Linked DNA regions of Homo sapiens. The protein of the gene in region 1 purifies or fractionates together with the protein of each later gene. This does not show direct contact. Each region holds a gene or a part of one and is shown in the gene's direction. Other genes may lie near its edges.

Region 1 (4,158 bases):
AGATGCTTTCTGACCCCGTCGAGGTCATCCCTGTACTGGGCCTTACATAATTTCTGCTGTCGGAAAAAATCCACTACACCTAAGAAAATTACTCCCAATGTTACTTTTTGTGATGAAAATGCAAAGGAGCCCGAAAATGCACTTGACAAGCTCTTCTCTTCAGAACAGCAGGCTTCCATCTTGCATGTGTTGAATACAGCATCTACTAAAGAACTTGAAGCTTTCCGATTGCTTCGTGGAAGAAGGTCCATCAATATCGTAGAGCACAGAGAAAACTTTGGGCCATTTCAGAATTTAGAGAGTTTAATGAATGTGCCCTTGTTTAAGTATAAAAGTACAGTTCAAGTTTGTAACTCCATACTTTGTCCAAAGACTGGACGGGAAAAAAGAAAGTCACCGGAAAACCGGTTCCTGAGAAAGCTCCTCAAACCAGACATAGAAAGAGAAAGACTTAAGGTATATTCTTCATGTCTGCTATACTGCCTAATATTTGAGAACCTACTCTAGAAAGCACTCTTCTGGGCATTGGGTTGGGAAGTGGCTAAGACAGGGTTCTTCAGGTTTAGTTGGCAAGTATATGATCACTACCAAATAATGAGATGTACAGATAGTAAATTGGCAGTTGAGAGGAGAGAAAACAATGGGCTGTGACTGTTGTGGAAAGTTTACTGGAAGAACTCAATTTAGGTCTTAAAAGAGAGATCCTTTGGATGGGAGAGGAGGGCATTGTAGGTAGAAAGAACAGTTGATGCTGAGAAGCAGGTCTAGGCAAGGCTTATTTAAGAGGAGTGTCGTTGGAGATACCAGGCTGTGTCTAAGGGTGATGTTAGGATTAATGAGAAATTAAGGAGCAAAGATAGGTTATGGCCAGTGAGTGACTTTAGAACATTATACCAGTCTTTCCGGCAGAATTTAAAATTATTTTCTGTACCTTTTCTCCTTTAAAAAGCATTTTATCTTGAATCATGCAAGTCTATAGGTAAGATTAAAAAAAAAAAAAAAAAGCGGCTGGCTCACACCTGTAATCCCAGCACTTTGGGAGGCCAAAGCGGGCGGATCACAAGGTCAAGAGATCCAGACAATCCTGGCCAATGTGGTGAAAGCCCATCTCTACTAAAAATACAAAATTTAGCTGGGCATGGTGGCGTGGGCCTGTAGTCCCAGCTACTCGGGAGGCTGAGGCAGGAGAATCTCTTGAACCTGGGAGGCAGAGGTTGCAGTGAGCTGACATCACGCCAGTGCACTCCAGCCTGGCTACAGAGCAAGACTCTGTCTCAAAAAAAAAAAAAAAACACCATTCTAAAAGCAATTCTTTTTCTATTGTCTTAAAAAAATAAATACTAGAAATATTTGACACAGCCAATTTTTTTTTTTTTTTTTTTTTTGAGACAGAGTCTTGTGCTGTCGCCAGGCTGGAGTACAGTGGCATGATCTCACAACAACCTCCACCTCCCAGGTTCAAGCGATTCTCCTGCCTCAGCCTCCTGAGTAGCTGAAACTACAGGCACATGCCACCACGCCCAGCTAATTTTTGTATTTTTAGTAGAGATGAGGTTTTACCATGTTGGCGCCAGGATGGTCTTGATCTGTTGACCTCGTGATCCACCTGCCTCGGGCTCCCGAAGTGCTGAGATTACAGGTGTGAGACACTGCGCCCGGCCACAGCACTCAAGTATTAAACTTTAGAGGAACTCATGTCCTGTGTAACATTGCTTGATAATCATTATCTCATAAAAATCATAAGCACCATTTTTTTTCTGGACCAGTGGGTCCGTTTTTTGAGGAATATGGGTACTTTTGAAAACCTGATGAAAGCTGTGGACCCTCTTCCCATAGAAAAAGATATAGCACATATACACAGAATACTACACAGTTTCAGAGGACTGGCAGATTCTGTTAAGTCCACTCATGGACTCCAAGTAGAACTGCTGCAATTGATCTGGAACATATTTTAACCAAATTCTTCAGGGAGGATTCTCATCCAGATTCATGGCCAAAACTATTTATACCCAGATTAGAGTGGAGTTGCATCTTATTTAGGGGGCTGGATTTTAAGTCAGTTTTTATGGAGATATAAGTCATGCAGTAAAATCCTTTAAGAAAAAATCGATTGCCGACGAAGTATTGTGTGTAGTCTGGTTCAGTAATGCTTGTGCACAGTAAAGCTTGAGAGTCACTTAGCTAAAGAAAACCAAAAGGAAGTCTGTATTTTGGGCATCTATACTATTTTGTCTTTAAGATATTTATCCAGTCCTTAGCAATGAAAGGGAGATGGGTATACAACTAATTGTTCCTGTTTATTTGCCTCTGTATCTATAGAACATATTAGTTTGTTAATATAACTAAGTGAGCCATGTTGGGGAAAGGTGATAGCATTGTACTTCATCGTCAGCCCAGACTTGATAGGAAGCAAAATCTAAATATTCAATTACTTATTATATATCTCCTCTTAGAAGCCCTATAGGCAACCCAAACTTAATGCATTAAAAACAAACCAAAACAAAACAAAAAAATTTCTTCCCACCTTCCCTAGGTCATGTGACTCCTATCTTCGTCATCATTAATGATGCCATTCAGTCACTGATATAAAACTGGAATTATTCTAGACTCCTCGTTAAACCTATGTATTAATTCTGCTCCCACTATCTGTTTCTTTTCCTTCTGTCATTGTCTTCAATTCTTAACACTTTCTCATGTTGTAACAGGTACCTAACACAGATCCCTACCTTTAGTTCCCTCCAGCCCATCTTTTACACCATCAGTGATTTTTCTGAAATGTAAATCTTATGTTATTCCTTAAAATTCTGTTTTTTTAGTGGCCCCTGTAGCACTCAGGATAAAGCAAGTTACTTACCTTTATAGACATCTGCCTTGTCCTCTGCCCTTTTCCTATTCAGTCTTTATTCTACTGCCAGAGTGTGAGATGTCAAACAGCCTATCTTTCCAGACATCTGGGTGAAATAACTTCCCATTTACTGTCTCATTCTCCTAGTCCTCCAGTAAACCTTCCCTGACCACTTCTCTCTACAATAGTTTTATGGTGGCATTTCTTATAATGTACAGTTACGTTTGTTGTTTCCTAGTATCTAGTGCAGACCTTGGCTACACTTGAGTTTGAATGCCTACTTTGGGCAAGGTGCTGAGAATGAGTATAGGTCCTTTATCTATAAACTGACTGCTGCTGGTTACCTTTTAATAATAATTACTCCTTGGTGGCTCACACCTGTAATCCCAGCACTTTGGGAGGCAGAGGCAGGTGGATCACTTGAGGTCAGGAGCTCAAGACCAGCCTGGCCAACATGGTGAAACCCTGTCTCTACTAAACATACAAAAATTAGCTGGGTGTGGTGGCAGGTACCTGTAATCCCAGCTACTCAGGAAGCTGAGGCAGAAGGATTGCTTGAATCTGGGAGGTGGATGTTGCAGTGAGCTGATTGCGCCACTGCACTCTAGCCTGGGTGACAGAACGAGACTCCATCTCAAACAAAATAATAATTACTCCTGCATTTCTTTAATAATTCTCAGTTCATAAACTATAAATAAGTTTATATTACATAAACTAGTTAGGCATTCTGAATTTGTAGATTATGTTTGCATCTAAAATATTTACACTTCTGGCCAGGCACGGTGGCTCATGCCTGTAATCCTAGCTCTTTGGGAGGTCAAGGCAGGTGGATCATGAGATCAGGAGATCGAGACTATCCTGGCTAACACAGTAAAACCCCATCTCTACTAAAAAAAAAAATAAAAAAATTAGCCGGGCGTGGTGGCGGGCGCCTGTAGTCCCAGCTAGTCGGGAGGCTGAGGCAGGAGAATGGCATGAACCCAGAAGGTGGAGCTTGTAGTGAGTTGAGATCGCGCCACTGCACTCCAGCCTGGGAGACAGAGCGAGACTCCGTCTCAAAAAAAGAAAAAACTAAAATGTTTATACTTCTAATTAAATCAGTCTTTTCTTTTAGGCAGTTAATAGTATCATATCTATCGTTTTTGGTACTCGAAGAATTGCCTGGGCTCACCTTGATCGTAAGTTGACAGTGCTGGACTGGCAGCAAAGTGACCGTTGGAGTTTAATGAGAGGAATATACTCATCATCAGTCTATTTAGAAGAGGTAAGGCAGTTGCACCTCCAGATTCCTACCTGCTAGAGCTCCTTGTGTA
Region 2 (5,282 bases), on another chromosome or scaffold:
GTATTCTCTCTAATGCCTGACCCTTCATAAGGCTCATTGTATTTTTGTTGAATTGAGTACGCTGATATGGTCCCTACCCTCAGCATGTTTACAGCGTAAGTCAAATAGTAAGGACATAGCGAATAATATTTGGCAGAACCATTACATGTATGTAATGATGAAATAAGTTTAACTGAAAGCCTTTCATGCTAGCTGGAACAGAAGCCAACCAGCCTCAGTGGCTGAGTTTCAGGTAAGAACACCCAGGTTCACCATTAATTCAAAAAGAATGTTTTGTTTCAACTCTTTGATGGTGGAATTCCTGGGCAGTAGCCCTTGTAGTTGGGGAAGGGACCACCTTAATACTTATTTCTCTGATGCCTATCAGGACGTGGGCCTGAAAATACTGTCCAATGCCAAAATCAAGAAGCCAGTAGATTGCAGTCACAGATCTCCAGAATACAGCACTGCTATGGGTGGTAAGCCACCTCTGTGGTCTGTGGATTCTCTGAGATGTTAACAGTCCTGGAACTCTGCAGATTTCCTCTTGCCTCCTGTTCTTGCACTGAGCCTCTAGCCCGAGAATGCTAATGGGTTGTGGGTCACAGATGCAGGACAGTTTCCCAAGTGTTCTCTCTCTGGGGAGAGCTTTTGAAGCCTGAAGCTTATGTATCCATTCCCCGGCCAAACCTCCTTGGCTATCACTTCCCTCGATGGCCTTTGTGACTAGTTAGTTCCTCTTTGGTCCTTCCTCCTTGCCTCTGACTGGATGTTCTCTGCTTCCCTCTAAATTTCTTTCTAGTAATCCCTCCATCCCAATTTATGTCACAACAAGAAGTCTCCTGTTTCCTAAAGTTTTCGTATTCTCAATTTCATCAGCAGGCGGTGGTCATCCAGAGGCTTTTGAGTCATCAACTCCTTTACATCAAGCAGAGGATTCTCAGGTCCGCCAGTACTTCCCAGAGACCTGGCTCTGGGATCTGTTTCCTATTGGGTAAGTGATGACTCAAAAGTACAGTAAAGGGCCAGGTGCATGGCTCACGCCTGTAATCCCAACACTTTGGGAGGCTTAGGAGGGAGGATCACTTGAGACCAGGAGTTCAAGACCAGCCTGGGCAACATAATGAGCTTCTGTCTCTACAAAAGAAATTAAAAAAATAGCCAGATGGTAGTTGTGTCCTACTTGGAAGGCTGAGGTGGAAGGATCACTTGAGTCTGGGAGGTGGAGGCTGCAGTGAAGCAAGATCACATTGCTTCACTCCTGCTTGGGTGACAGAGCAAAACCCTTCTCAAAATCAACAACGACAACGACAACAACAAACCCAGAAAAAAAACAGTAAGATTCTGCAATGTAGAGCCTGTAGAAAACTCAGAATCAGACGCATTCCTAATGGATCTAAATCTTAAGCAAAGAAAGCTTGATGGGGTGTGGGAATTTATTTATTTTCCGGAATTCTTTTTTTCTTTTTATTTTTAAGACAGAGTCTTGCTCTGTCACCCAGGCTGGAGTGCAGTGGCATGATTTTGGCTCACTGTAGGCCTCAACCTCCTAGGTTCAAGCAATTCTTGTGCCTCAGCCTCCCAAGTAGCTGGGACTATAGGCACATGCCACCACACCTGGCTAAGTTTTGTATTTTTAGTAGAGGCAGGGTTTTGCTATGTTGGCCAGGCTAGTCTTGAACTCCTGGCCTCAAGTGATCCACCCGCCTTGGCCTCCCAAAGTGTTGGGATTACAGGTGTGAGCCACTGCGCCCGGCCTACCTGAATTCTTCATGCATTCATATACAACCACTCAAAACAAATCCACACAATTCCACACTCACACATTGCAGGCCCTGTGTTCTCACTACAGAACCACACACATTTAAAGGTATATATTGACATCAATTTTTGCTCACTGCTTGCATATCCATTTTGACAAGCCCTGAGACCACACATCCTCAGACTCAGAGGGCACCAGCCTCTCTGTCAGATGTGCTTGCACAGAGATGCCCACCCCGACTCCCCACCATAGTCCCCCTCCTCCGTATGAGTGCAGCCTCACTCACACTGAGACTCACCTGTTCAGTTGCCTCTTTACTTCTCCCCATACAATAACAATAACAATTTTACTTCTGCAGATGAATTTGTAGCTTTTTTTTTTTGGACAGGGTCTTGCCCTGTCACCCAGGCTGGAGTGCAGTGGTGCAATCATAGCTCACTGCAGCCTCAAACTCCTGGGCTCAAGCAATCCTCCTGCCTCAGCCTCCTAAGTAGCTGGGACTATAGGCATGCACCACCACACCTGGCTAATTTTTAAATTTTTGGTAGAAATAGGGTCTTGCTATGTTTCCCAGGCTGGCCTCAAACTGCTGGGCTGAAGCTATCTGCTCACCTCAGCCTCTCAAAGAGCTGGGATTACAAGTGTAAGCCAGCACACCCCACCGAATTTGTGGCTTAATTCACAAATGTTCTCCTTGCCCCACGCTACCTCTGCCTCATGTTGGTCCTTGTGTTTTCACAGTAACTCGGGGAAGGAGGCGGTCCACGTCACAGTTCCTGACGCCATCACCGAGTGGAAGGCGATGAGTTTCTGCACTTCCCAGTCAAGAGGCTTCGGGCTTTCACCCACTGTTGGACTAACTGCTTTCAAGCCGTTCTTTGTTGACCTGACTCTCCCTTACTCAGTAGTCCGTGGGGAATCCTTTCGTCTTACTGCCACCATCTTCAATTACCTAAAGGATTGCATCAGGGTGAGAGCTGGGGATACAGGAATCAGGTGTCAGCCCTGGAATCACACCTCCCCCATAAGTTTGTCTCTAAATTGGAAGCATCCCAATTTTCCCTGGGAAAGAGAGGAGATGTCGGCGTCTCAGCCCCCAGGTTTCCCCAGGCCTCTATGCACTACCTCCTTTGTTTGTACCCTTTGTCTCTTAAACATCCTCCGTAGGTTCAGACTGACCTGGCTAAATCGCATGAGTACCAGCTAGAATCATGGGCAGATTCTCAGACCTCCAGTTGTCTCTGTGCTGATGACGCAAAAACCCACCACTGGAACATCACAGCTGTCAAATTGGGTAAGAGAGGGAAGTGGTAGACGGGCGAGGAAAGCCAGCAGCAGAAGACCAGTGACTGAGCACTCAGTCTTTTCCTCTGCCACATCTGCTTTGCTTCCTCCTCCATTTTCCACTATTTTTCTCCCTCCTAAGGCTGTTATAAGTCAATACACAAACACTCTTTGATAGGTGACCAAACAAATTTGTTCAAACCGGAATATTTTGAGTGTGAAAGGGAGAGCTTTTAATATTTATAGCTGGACAAGGAATACATGGTCATGTAACTAATCAAGGACTTACTATAAGAGTCCCTGGGCCAGGCACTATTCTAACTGCTTTACATATATTAACTCATTAAATTGATTGACTAATTAATTTTTATTTTATTTATTTATTTTTGAGAGGAAGTCTCGCTCTGTTGCGCAGGCTGGAGTGCAGTGGTGCAATCTGTGCTTACTGCAACCTCCACCTCCTGGGTTCAAGTGATTCTCCTGCCAAGCCTCCCAAGTAGCTAGGATTACAGTCGCGTGCCACCCTACCCGGCTAATTTTTGTACTTTTAGTAGAGGTGGGGTTTTGCCATGTTGGCCAGGCTGGTCTCAAACTCCTGACCTCAGGTGACCTGCCTGCCTCGGCCTCCCAAAGTGCTGGGATTACAGGCGTGAGCCGCTGCGCCTGGCCTTTTATTTTTTTTTAGAGAGACAAGATCTTACTCTGTCACCTAAGCTGGAGTACAGTGGTGTGGTCATTGCTCACTGCAGCCTCAACCTCCCAGGCTCAAGCGATCCTCTCACCTAGGCCTCCGGAGTAGCTGGGACTATAGGCTCATGCCACCACCATGCCTGGCTAATTCAGTTGGCAGAGAAGCGGTCTTGCTCTGTTGCCCAGGCTGTTCTCAAACTCCTGGGTTCAAGTGATTCTCCCGCCTCACCCTTCCAAAGTACTGGGATTACAAGAATGAGTCACTGCACCTTTAACTTGTTTAATCCTCACCCCCAACCCTATGGGATGTCAGTCACTCATAGATTAAATCCTTGCAACTCAAAGTTTGATTTTCATATGTATGAGTTATCTCATGTTGCTTGACAAATTATTGTAAAACTTAAGTGTCATAAAAGGACAAACATTATCAAACAGATTCTATGGGTCATTAATCTGGGTGCAGCTTAGCTGGGTACCTCTGGCTCAAGGTATCTCATGAGGTTGCAATCAAGCTGTCAGTCAGGACTCTGGTTTCATCTGAAGACTCGACTAGGAGAGGATTGATTTTTCAAGCTCATCCCAAAGTCTCTGATCCTTACAGGCTGCTAGACTGAAGGACACAGTTCTTGACCTCAGCTTTTGGCTAGGGGCCTCACTCAGTATCTCATCACATGAATCTCTCTGCTGGGCTGCCTCATCACACAACAGCTGTCTTCCCCAGAGCAAGCAGTTTGAGAAAAGGGGTGCACCCAAGATGGAAGCTGCAGTCTTTTTTGTAACCTAATCCCAGAAGAGTCATTACTTTCACCCTGTTCTCTTTAACAGAAGCGAGTCACTCAATCCAGCTCACACTCAATGGATGTAAATATCAGGATGCAGGGATCTCTGAGGGCCCTTAGAGGTTACCTACCACACTGGACTAGCCTCTCTGGCATCACCTGGGAGCTTGTTAGAAATGCAGAATATGGGCCCCACCCCAGGTCTATGGCAGCAGAGTTTGCACTGTTGCAAGATCCCCATTAAAGTTTCAGAAATGCTGATCCAAATGGGAATGGACCTCACTGGTACCTCTGGCAATAGGGCTAATGGCTTCCCTTCTTCTTTCTCTCAGGTCACATTAACTTTACTATTAGTACAAAGATTCTGGACAGCAATGAACCATGTGGGGGCCAGAAGGGGTTTGTTCCCCAAAAGGGCCGAAGTGACACGCTCATCAAGCCAGTTCTCGTCAAAGTGAGTTTTCTTCAGAGGTAGAGACAGCAACCAACCGAGGGATGCTCAGCATCTCGTCTTGCTGTGAGTTAGTCTCTCACAGCAACCATACTCCAGTCCAACCAGGCAGCTTCAACTTTCTCCTTCCCTGGCCCCTTGAACATTTGCCTAATCCACACCCACGGCCTATGAAAGCACCTAAAACCCGGCACCTCATAGGCACTCAACAAATGTTAGTTTACCTAATTAAAATGTCTGTCTTCATCAATAGCTGCCTTTTTCGTCCCATCATGAAGCCCATTGTCAATCTTGCCTCTTAGAAGTTGCCTAAATGTGTCTTTGGCTCTAGCACTTG
Region 3 (5,282 bases), on another chromosome or scaffold:
AATTTAGTGAGGATGATACCTTTATTCTTCTTAAATACATCTCTTCATTTCCCAGAGCACCCTTTTTTCCCCTCCTCTGCACCTTTTTGTTAAAGACTGGAGTATAATGAAATACCAAGAGAGCATAACATGTGATACATAAAACTTTTTTTCTGGTTTACAAAACAGTTCATTCTTGTCCATACGTGCTTCTCTCCAAGGCTGGCTGCTGTCTGTTCCAGCCCGCTTCGCTTGGAGAGGCCATCTGCCATACCTGCTCCCCAGACGCATCGACAAGCACACCCAGAGTGTTATCTGCTAAGACCTAAAAGAGGGAGGAACCCCCTCTCCTCATCTAAGACCTAGCTTCTAAATTAGAGTGTGAGGGTCCATCTCCCCAGGAGGGGCACAGGGCCCAAACAGCCCAGCCATCTCAGAAGACAACACTAAGCTTTGTAGGGGTCCACAGTAGAGGAGAGTAAGACGCCTGTTGTTTAATTTATTACAGTTCCTCAAAAGTGAAGATGTGTGGGCGGGATGGCAAGAGCTGAGCAGACGAAAGCTGAAGGAATAAGGAAAGAGAGGAGGACACAAACAGCTGACACTTCCTCAGTTCTTGTCATTTGCCTGGCCCTGTTCTAAGCACCTTCTAGGTATTAATCCATTTAGTCTTGGCTACAACACTGTGAGTGACTAGTTTTGTCACCCCCATTTTAAAAATGAAGAAAGTGAGGCTCAGGGAGGTTAAGTAACTTGGCCACAGTTTGAAACTAGACTCTGATCACATGAGATAATAGTGCCCATAAAAAGGGAAAGCAGATTATATTTTTTAAAGGAAAGAGAGTAGGATATGGTAGAAAAAGATTGTTTGGAAAGGAATTGAGAGATTGATATAATGAAAAGAAGCATTCACATGAGAGTAACAGTATCAGGGCCCAAACCTTCATCTAAGGTACTTCAAAGAGGCCTAAGCAAACTTAGTCACTGGCGTGGTTCTAGTCTCCATGATGGCAAATACATTGTGTACAGCCCAACTCCACACAAAACTTAAATACCAATGATAGAGCAATCTAAAATTTGAAAGAAAAAATCTTTCAATTTGTCGTCTTCCCAGAGGGACTTAATCAAGAAACCAATCAAAATACTTCCTAAGCCTAACTGTGTGCAGAACTCCAAAGAGAGCCCAGCCCTAAATCAACACTGTCCAATGGAAATATAATATAATGTGGGCCTCATATGCAAGGTCATATGTAATTTTAAATTTTCTAGTAGCCATATTAAAAAGGTAAAAAGAAACAAGTGAAATTAATTTTAATAATTTTATTTAGTTCAATAGATCCAAAATGTTTTCTCAGCATGTAATCAATATAAAAATATTAATGAGGTATTTATTATTCCTTTTCTCAAACCAAGTCTATTCTATAATCTGGCGTGTATTATTTACAGCACTTCTCAGACTATATTTCTTTCTTTCTTTTTTTTTTCCGAGACAATTTTGCTCTTGTCACCCAAGCTAGAGTACAATGGCGTTACCTCGGCTCACTGCAACCTCCGCCTCCCGGGTTCAAGTTATTCTCCTGCCTCAGTCTCCCAAGTAGCTGGGACTAGAGGCATGCACCACCACGCCTGGCTAATTGTGTATTTTTAGTAGAGACAGGGTTTCACCATGTTGGCCAGGCTAATCTCAAACTCCTGAGCTCAGGTGATATGCCCACCTCGGCCTCCCAAAGTGTTGGGATTACAGGCGTGAGCCACTGCACCCGGCCTCAGATTAACTATATTTCAAGCGTTCAGTAGCCACATGTAGCTAGTGCTATGGTAGTGGACAGTACAGATCTGCATTTCAATTAAGACACGTATACAAGCATAGTTCACTAATGCACGGTAAAAAAAAGTATAGTGCTGAGTCGGTGGTAGAAATCCTAAATACTGCAGAGCAAAAGTGGTACGAACAGCAATCTCAGTGATAATGCAACCATGCTTGCTTTTCATTGCAATTTGCTTATTTTCCTTCAGCAAAGTTCATCCATTTTTGCCAATTCAATAAATATTTACTGATAAAAACTTTCAATATTAGATTCTTGCATCTTCATAGACAGAGTTGCTTTTCACATTTAGAAAATTACTTATCAATGTTAAACACACGTTTTGATAACCAGTGTTGGAAAGAGGTGCAGACTCCCCATGTGCCTATTGATGGCAGAAATATTCACAGCCAAAGGGAAACAAAGGGCTGGGGACAATCACACACCTCATGTCTCCTAACTCCTGGGAAGTGCTGTCCCTCTGATTGAGCTCTTATTATTGCCTTCCCCACTAACCCTGTCCACTGTGCCCTGGAGCCCTTTGCAGGGTTACCTGCTCTGTCCTCCTCACAGAATATCTCCTCTACCTCCTTGTCCAAGCTACAACTTGGCTATTCTCTGATGACACTGTCTTCCCTGTAGCCCTTTTGAGTAATGGCTGCATATTCTCCCATAGTCCAGTTCTTTTCCTGTTCTCCAGTCTGGCTTCTGGATGACAGCCCACTAGTTTGAACTCCATACTGCTATAGTTCAAGTCCCTTTTGACTTGTTACCTTGGGCAAATTACCTCCTTTTGTTCAGGTTCCTTGTTTGTAAAATGACGATAATAATGCCATTTGCTTCAGTGGGTTATTTTGAAATTGAGTGAAAGAAGGCGGGTAGCTTCCCTACACGCTCAGTGTAGACTAGCCTGATGTGCATTACGGGTGATGCCATGACTCAGTGTGTTTTCCTCATCTCCACATCTGGCTCTCATCCAGTGCTCCTGCTTACGGCACTCTGTCCCCCTCTTACTTACTCCCCCTTATTAACTGAAGACTGGCACTGATCTCACAGTTTCCTCTCCACTTCCTAGTCTCACCATCATCCTAGATGACTTCAAGTCACCTAGATAAACTGTCTCAGTTTCTTCACTCACATTTTTTTATAACAGATAATGTTACACTCAAGTTGTAACAGAACCAGCTTATCCAGCTCATGAAATGTATGCATTTCATCTCAACTCTGTATTCAGTGACATCCTGTGGGTATCTGGAAATCAGCCATGGTGAGAATATTTACCATGGAAATTGGCAAATACTAAAAAGCAGAGCACCTTTTTTTCTGAGAGCCAGACCATAGCTCTTCTACTCCATAGCACCCATCATAACAATTTTTAAATACCTCCACTGAACAGCTTCTTCCTCTCTCTACTTCTTCCATATCTGATTTGAGCTTCTTAATTTATCATGTGAACCACTCTTGTAATAATAACCCCAAATCCCTGTTCCATTGTTCTTCCTGCTAAAATACTAAACCTGGTTTAGTCCAACCATATTTTCTCTCTTTGGAATCTACAGGGTGGCCCAAAAACCTGGAAATGGAAAAATATTACTTATTAATTTTAATGTATATTAATAAGCCATTTTAATGCTTCATTTCCAGTCTCAGTGGCCACCCTGTATAGCTGGGCTATTGAGCTCTTGCGGGAGGAGGGAGTGGACAGTCTCCCAGCCACACAGACTGATGTTGCACCAAACATTTTTTAGCTTCCAGACTTCCCTGGCCCTTAGTGTTACCCTTAACTCTCCATTTCTCTGCCTTTCACATTCTCTACTTTTTAAAAATCTCTGACTCCACCTTCACCTTATCATTCTTAGCACATGACCATACTTCTGCTTCCCAAAGAAAATGAGCAATTACTTCCTTTTCCTTTTCCTCCTGTCATCAAATCTGCAGACATGTCATGCCTAAGTCCAGCTTTCCTCCTTTCTCTGATCTCAGTCTGCTTCTTCCATTTCTGCCCTGAATCCCGTCCCCTCCCCAACCCCCAAGGACTTCGCTCTATCAGTCACCTCTTCCCTCTCCTGTATCTTCAACTCCTCCCATTTTACTGGCTTCTTCCTCAAGCCTTTCCCCAAGCCTTTCCCCAAGCCTTTCCCATCTCAATTACCTCCTCGCACATGCCTCTGCAGAAACCACCCCGTTTCTTCCCTCCCCTCGGCAGCCTGTTCTTCCTGTTCTGCCCTCATGATGGCACCATCATTGTGTCACTAAAATCAATCTCTCCGACATCATCAATGGCCTTCCTTTGTTGGGAAACCTAATAAACACTTTATCTTATTTGGTCTTTGTTATGGGTTGAATGAGGTTACCCCGAAATCCATATTAGAAGTCCTAACCCCCAGTACCTCAGAATGTGACTTTATTTGGGAATAGGGTCATTGCAGACGTTATTAGTTAGGATGAGGTCATACTGGAATGTGATGGGCTGCTTATCTAATATGACTGATGTCCTTATAACAAGGAGAAATTTGGAGACAGACACGCACATAGGGAGAATACCATGTGATGACAGGAGTTATGGAGTTGGAGTCAAAAAGCTATGGGAACTTAGGAGAAAGACCTGGAACAAATCCTTTCCTGCGCCTAGAGAGGGAGTATGGCCCTGCCACTACCTTGAATTCAACGTTTCGGCTTTTCAAAACTGTAAGACAATACATTTCTGTTGTTCAAACCAATTAGTTTGCAGTACTCTGCGACTGCAGCCCTAACAAACTAATACAGTCTCTTGGAGGCATTTGGCAAGGTTGACAATGGAAGCACTTTCTTACCCCTTTAGGTCTGTCGCCTTTCTTGTTGGGGGGTGTTTTCTAACAATTCCTCTCCATCTCTCTCTCTCTAGTTTGTCTTAAACATTGGTGTTCTTCAGACTTCTGACCTAGGCCTTCTTTTCACTTCACATATTCCCCTGGGTGGTCTCACCCACTTCCAGAAATTACTTAAATTACTGCTCATGCAGTACTGTGCTGGAAACTGTTTAACAACTGGCTCTCTGGGAAGAGGGGAGACTGGTTGATGGTTTTTGCTGATTTCTGTGGTGTAAATACTCCCTCCATGGCCAATTCCAAACTGCCAACAGTTTAACAACTGGCTCACAAATTTTCTCCAAATTTAACATTTGGCTTTCACAGGCCAACAACGTGGTACAGCCAACTCCAGCACACCTCTGCTTTTGTGTCAGAGAGAAGTAACTTATTTTTGTACAAAAGGTAAAATAAAAACACCTGCAGGCCCCCTTTTTTTCCTTAACAAACTGCTCTAGAAATAGAATAGCTGAAGCTTCTTTTATGCATTCATCTGTTATTTCCATGTCACTGTGGTGGTGGGATTATTTTTCCTTTATTTTTCTTGTATATGGTTGAAATACTGTACCTTTGATCAGTTTTAGTTTTATGGCATGTTTTGCACCCATATTAAATCTAGTTTTTGTCAGAGGGCGTCAATATTATTTTCTCA
Region 4 (4,656 bases), on another chromosome or scaffold:
TCTGTGTTCACCCTCACCCTGCAGGCTGGCCTCTCAGCCATCAAGACACCGTATCCTACCTCCCGTGCGCAGTGCGGTTTGGCCTGGGGTTGGCATCTTTGGTCATATTTTAACACGCTGACCCTGCACCTTGCCACTCTTGTCCTCCCACCACAGACAGCCCCGAGCTCCCGTGTGCTGCACTTGCGTGGTGTCTGGATGGTCGGGGTGGGGCCGTGTTGAGGGGCCTCGGATGCGTCGTGCAGCCTTCACTCTGGGAAGTGGCGCGCTTCCTCTCTCATCATCTCAGAGGCCGCCATGGGCATTGATCTAAAAGCCCGATTTTGATGTGTTCTGGCAGCCGGCAGATTACCATTCAGAATAGTTTTCCCGTGTGATTACCAAGAACCTTGCCTGTGACTGACTCTGTCCCGCCTGTGACTGACTCTGTCCCACCTGTGACCGACTCTGTCTGCCTGTGACTCTGTCCCTGCCTGTGACTGACTCCATCCTGCCTGTGACTCTGTCCCACCTGCGACTCACTGAGTTCCTGCCTGTGACTCACTCGGCTCCCGCCTGCAACGGACTTGGTCCCTGCCTGCGACTCACTGTGGCCCTGCCTGTGACTGAGTCTGTCCCGTTTGTGACTGATTCCTTCCTGTGACTGACTCTGTCCCACCTGCAACTGACTTCTTCCTGCCTGTGACAGACTCTGCCCCTGCCTGCGACTGAGTCTGTCCCTTCCTGCAACTGAGTCCATCCCGCCTGTGACTCTGTCCTCGCCTGTGACTGACTCTGCCCCTGCCCTGTGACTGTCTCACCTGTGACTGACTCCGTCCTGCCTGTGACTCAGCCTCTTACTGACTCTACCCCTGCCTGTGACTGACTCTGCCCTCTCCTGTGACTGACTCTGTCCCCACCTGTGACTGACTCTGTCCCCACCTGTGACTGACTGTCCTCCTGCAACTGACTCTGTCCCCGCCTATGAATGTCTTTCATGTGACCTGCCTCAGGCCCAGAGGGCAGTGAGTGTTTCGCGATTGCTGCTGGTACCTGGCTGTGCCGGGGTATGAATGAGACTCAGGCCCCCTCCCTTGTCCCCTCTTTGTGGAACTCTGGGCGAGAGGGCTGGCGTGCTTGCCCACTGCCTGTTCCTAGGTGCCAGCAGAACGTCCCTGCTGGGTGGCTCTTGTCCTGCCTGGAGAGGTTGCGTGGCCGGGGAGAGGGCGGCGGGCGACGGAGCCACTCTGTGCCTGTGGTCCTGGTGCTGGAGGCCGGGGTGAGAAGGCGCAGGCTTCTTGTCTCCACCGAGGCCTCAGTGGGGCTGTTTAGCTGTCGAGTGCAGCACTTCCTGTGCCTCGAAAGACAGCCCCGTGTAGTCAGCATGGCGCCCACATAGCCAGAAGGGCACGCAGCCCAGGGCAGAGTGGCCACAGGGGGCTGGGCTCACCCCGGCTGCCCTGAGTGGCCCCCAACCCTTCCTTGACCCGATGCTCAGACAGTGCTACAAGGAGGACGGCAGCTCCAAGAGCCCTGACTGCCCTGTGTGCAGCCGCTCCCTGAACAAGCTGGCGCAGCCCCTGCCCATGGCCCACTGTGCCAACTCCCGCCTGGTCTGCAAGATTTCTGGCGACGTGATGAACGAGAACAATCCGCCCATGATGCTGCCCAACGGCTACGTCTACGGCTACAATGTGAGGGGGGCAGGGCAGGGGGGCCAGGCTGGCACGCATCGCCATCGGGACAGGGCTGTGTGGGACGGGCAGGGCAGGGGGGCCAGGCTGGCACGCATCGCCATCGGGACAGGGCTGTGTGGGACGGGCAGGGCGGGGGGCCAGGCTGGCACGCGTCGCCATCGGGACAGGGCTGTGTGGGGCGGGCAGGGCAGCGGGGCCAGGCTGGCACACGTCGCCATTGGGACAGGGCTGTCCTCTCGCCCCACCCTGCCTTAGCTTCGTTCGAAATGGATGAAGGGGTGGGAAGGACAGGCGAGGTGGCCCCGGGATTTCTTTGGCAGGTGTGCCTTCGGGAAGGAACTTTGCCTGAGAGGATGAGTCATTCCCTGGTGGTTCATTGTGGGGATTTTCCATGGAAATCCGTGTGTACGTTGTAGTCGCTTGCCTTAATGCATTCCCGGTTTTATTTTTCAGTCTCTGCTTTCTATCCGTCAAGATGATAAAGTCGTGTGCCCGAGAACCAAAGAAGTCTTCCACTTCTCACAAGCCGAGAAGGTGTACATCATGTAGGCCCCACGTCGTGAAGCGCACGCCTCGGGGACGGGCTGCAGTGGGCGGGGAGGCCACGCCTTCCTCCTGTCCCACGCTCCAGCCTGCCGCGGCGTTTCTGTTTCTTGCGACCAAAGATCCGTGAGCAACGATAAATACTCTTAGGAAGAGAGAAAATAAGGTTTCATAAGTTTGTACTTGAAAACATTTGGATTGGTAGGATTTTGTAACACGTCAACCATTTGATGCTTCTGAAAAGTACTTTCAACTTGCGAAGGAAACTCTTCTTTAAAGACTGACCTAAACACCGAGGGAAACTTAAGAACGTTTAAAATATAGGAGTCCGTGATTTCCCTGTGTTTTCAGTTTCTTTCCTTCTGTGAACGATGAGACTTGGAGAACGGGCTGGTCCTTCACCACTTCCTGTTGGCCCTGGCCTGGCCGGGGAAGGTGGCAGCGGCACCGGACTGACCTGCAGTGACCCGCGATGCCGCGCCACGAGGGACACTTATGGCTTCATTCGAGAGCTGCTGCCAAAACGCCTGGCGCCGCCACCGTCGGGGGCTGGCTTCGAGGACGCCCGCCTGCCTCGCGGGTCGTGTCCGCGGGACTGTGTTCGTACGTGCATAGTTTCGATATCACATCGCGGGGCTGTGTTCGTAGCTGCGTCGTTTCGATATCACACCCTCTGTGTGCCGCCTTACTTCCTGCTTCGAGAATGTATAACGTGGAAATCCACGGGACCAAATTTCTGCAGAGGCCTTGCCGGATGGTTCCATAACTGTAGAGTCTAATTGCTATCCATTACAGAAATTAATCGTTCAGTTGAAAGAAGTACTGATGACTTTTCAAAACAAATGAACCACCGTAGCTGACAGAGAACCGTATCGTAGAGGTTTGTAGTTAGTGCTTATTTTTGCATGTTGATGTTGACTAGCTAATAAACTGTAAATGTAAACCATGCGAATAAAATGGTTTTCTATTTCTCATTTCCGTGTGAGCCGAGGCTGCCGTGCGTTTCTAACACCGAGGTTGTGTTCTGCTCCTCCCCGGGGCCCGGGCAGCATGGCGGGCATATGCGTAGCTTCTGGCACCACGGCCACCGGGAGTTGAGAAGCCGGCTGGAGGCCACTCCTGCCCGGACCGCAGTCCTCCTCTCGGGCGCTGCCCTGAGGCGTGATGGCCCCAGCGTCTTGAGGCCCCGGCTTGCAGCTGGGTGAATCAGACACTGGTTCCTGGGACCCACGGGCCATTGTCTGTTGGGGGTGGGGGCTCAGGCTGCAGCCACCAGCAAGCCTGGGCCTGCGGCTTGGGCTGAGTCTAGGGTTGGGCTAAGGAGGCCTGCGGGCTGTGGCCACTGGCCCTTCCCCCCACCGCCCACCCCTGTTCTCTCCAGTGCCCCGTCGCAGCTCCTGTGGCCAGCCTGGTGCCCCTTAGCCCATCTCTTACCCCATGGTGGCTGCCCTGGCCCCTCCACAGCACCCAGCTGGAACCCACCACATTCCCACGTGCTCTTCTTTGGAGCGCCCGTCCCCAGGTCCCCTCGGCCGAAGCAGACCCTGTGGCCCCACTGCCACGCAGCCGCCCCGGCCTCCACCGTCCTCACGTGCAGGGGCTTTCCTTGTCTTGCGTCCTGTTCTTTCCTTTTTAACTCGAGTAGAACATACTGGAGCACACACATTCTAAGTTCACATAACGAATTTCTGTGTAACATGCATGTAACCACCAAACAGACTGTTCCCAGCCCCTGGCCTTGCCCGGTCAATATCCTGGTCAGTCATCATTGGAGTGGCGCACCCCGGCCCTGAGCTCCTCGAACACAGAGCCACATGGCGTGGGTCCGTGGCTCAGCGTTACTCGGCGGCTCAGCCCTGGCACGGCAAAGTCTTGCCTGGTTACAGGCCTGTGCTCTCCAGGCAGAACAAGCGCAGCGGCCTGGCCCCTCTCCCGCCGGTGGACATCAGGCGGTGTCCAGGTAAAGCTGCTGTGAGCACTCCGGGAGGTGACCCTTGCTGGACGCATCATTCTTTTGTGGGGAGATGCCGAGGAGTTGCCATTGCTGGGCCACGTGTCCACTCAGCAGACACTGACGGTTTGTTAAAGGGGTTGCACCCACTTCTGCCCATCTGCTCCACATCCACACCAGCGAGTGGCACTGGGAGTCTTGAATGTGAGATGTTTTGTTGGTTGTGTTATCTCGCTGTACTCTTTCTCAATTGAGGTAAAAATTACATACACCAAAATGCACATACAAGTAAAAGCTACTCAATGAGTCTTAATAAATGTACCTCCATGTGACCACCACTGAAGCCCAGGCATGGAACGTCCCCATGGCCCCAGAAAGGGACCCCTTGTACCTTCTGAGTTATCCACAACCCCTACACAAAATCATTGCTCTAATTTTTGTCACCGTAGGTGAGCTGTGCCTCCATAGGTGTCAGATGGTGGAATG

Evidence for each region. Proteins that work in one complex are often made in the same cells at the same time.
Region 2: the proteins of TEFM (region 1) and A2ML1 purify together in Homo sapiens (affinity purification with mass spectrometry; one large-scale study listed by BioGRID and IntAct). This does not show direct contact.
Region 3: the proteins of TEFM (region 1) and HPSE purify together in Homo sapiens (affinity purification with mass spectrometry; one large-scale study listed by BioGRID and IntAct). This does not show direct contact.
Region 4: the proteins of TEFM (region 1) and MAEA purify together in Homo sapiens (affinity purification with mass spectrometry; one large-scale study listed by BioGRID and IntAct). This does not show direct contact.

Annotation. Positions count from the first base shown.
Region 1 is NC_000017.11:30,900,364-30,904,521, reverse strand, and holds part of TEFM (transcription elongation factor, mitochondrial), read left to right. Parts: coding exon 1-456; intron 457-3,959; coding exon 3,960-4,109; intron 4,110-4,158. UniProt on the Homo sapiens protein: Transcription elongation factor which increases mitochondrial RNA polymerase processivity. Regulates transcription of the mitochondrial genome, including genes important for the oxidative phosphorylation machinery.
Region 2 is NC_000012.12:8,849,302-8,854,583, forward strand, and holds part of A2ML1 (alpha-2-macroglobulin-like protein 1 isoform 1 precursor), read left to right. Parts: intron 1-367; coding exon 368-458; intron 459-858; coding exon 859-973; intron 974-2,482; coding exon 2,483-2,711; intron 2,712-2,908; coding exon 2,909-3,035; intron 3,036-4,826; coding exon 4,827-4,948; intron 4,949-5,282. UniProt on the Homo sapiens protein: Is able to inhibit all four classes of proteinases by a unique 'trapping' mechanism. This protein has a peptide stretch, called the 'bait region' which contains specific cleavage sites for different proteinases.
Region 3 is NC_000004.12:83,327,386-83,332,667, reverse strand, and holds part of HPSE (heparanase isoform 1 preproprotein), read left to right. Parts: intron 1-5,282. UniProt on the Homo sapiens protein: Endoglycosidase that cleaves heparan sulfate proteoglycans (HSPGs) into heparan sulfate side chains and core proteoglycans. Participates in extracellular matrix (ECM) degradation and remodeling.
Region 4 is NC_000004.12:1,336,945-1,341,600, forward strand, and holds the end of MAEA (E3 ubiquitin-protein transferase MAEA), read left to right. Parts: coding exon 1-50; intron 51-1,477; coding exon 1,478-1,673; coding exon of another isoform or gene 1,674-1,931; exon of another isoform or gene 1,932-2,123; intron 2,124-2,129; coding exon 2,130-2,225; 3' UTR 2,226-3,193; downstream 3,194-4,656.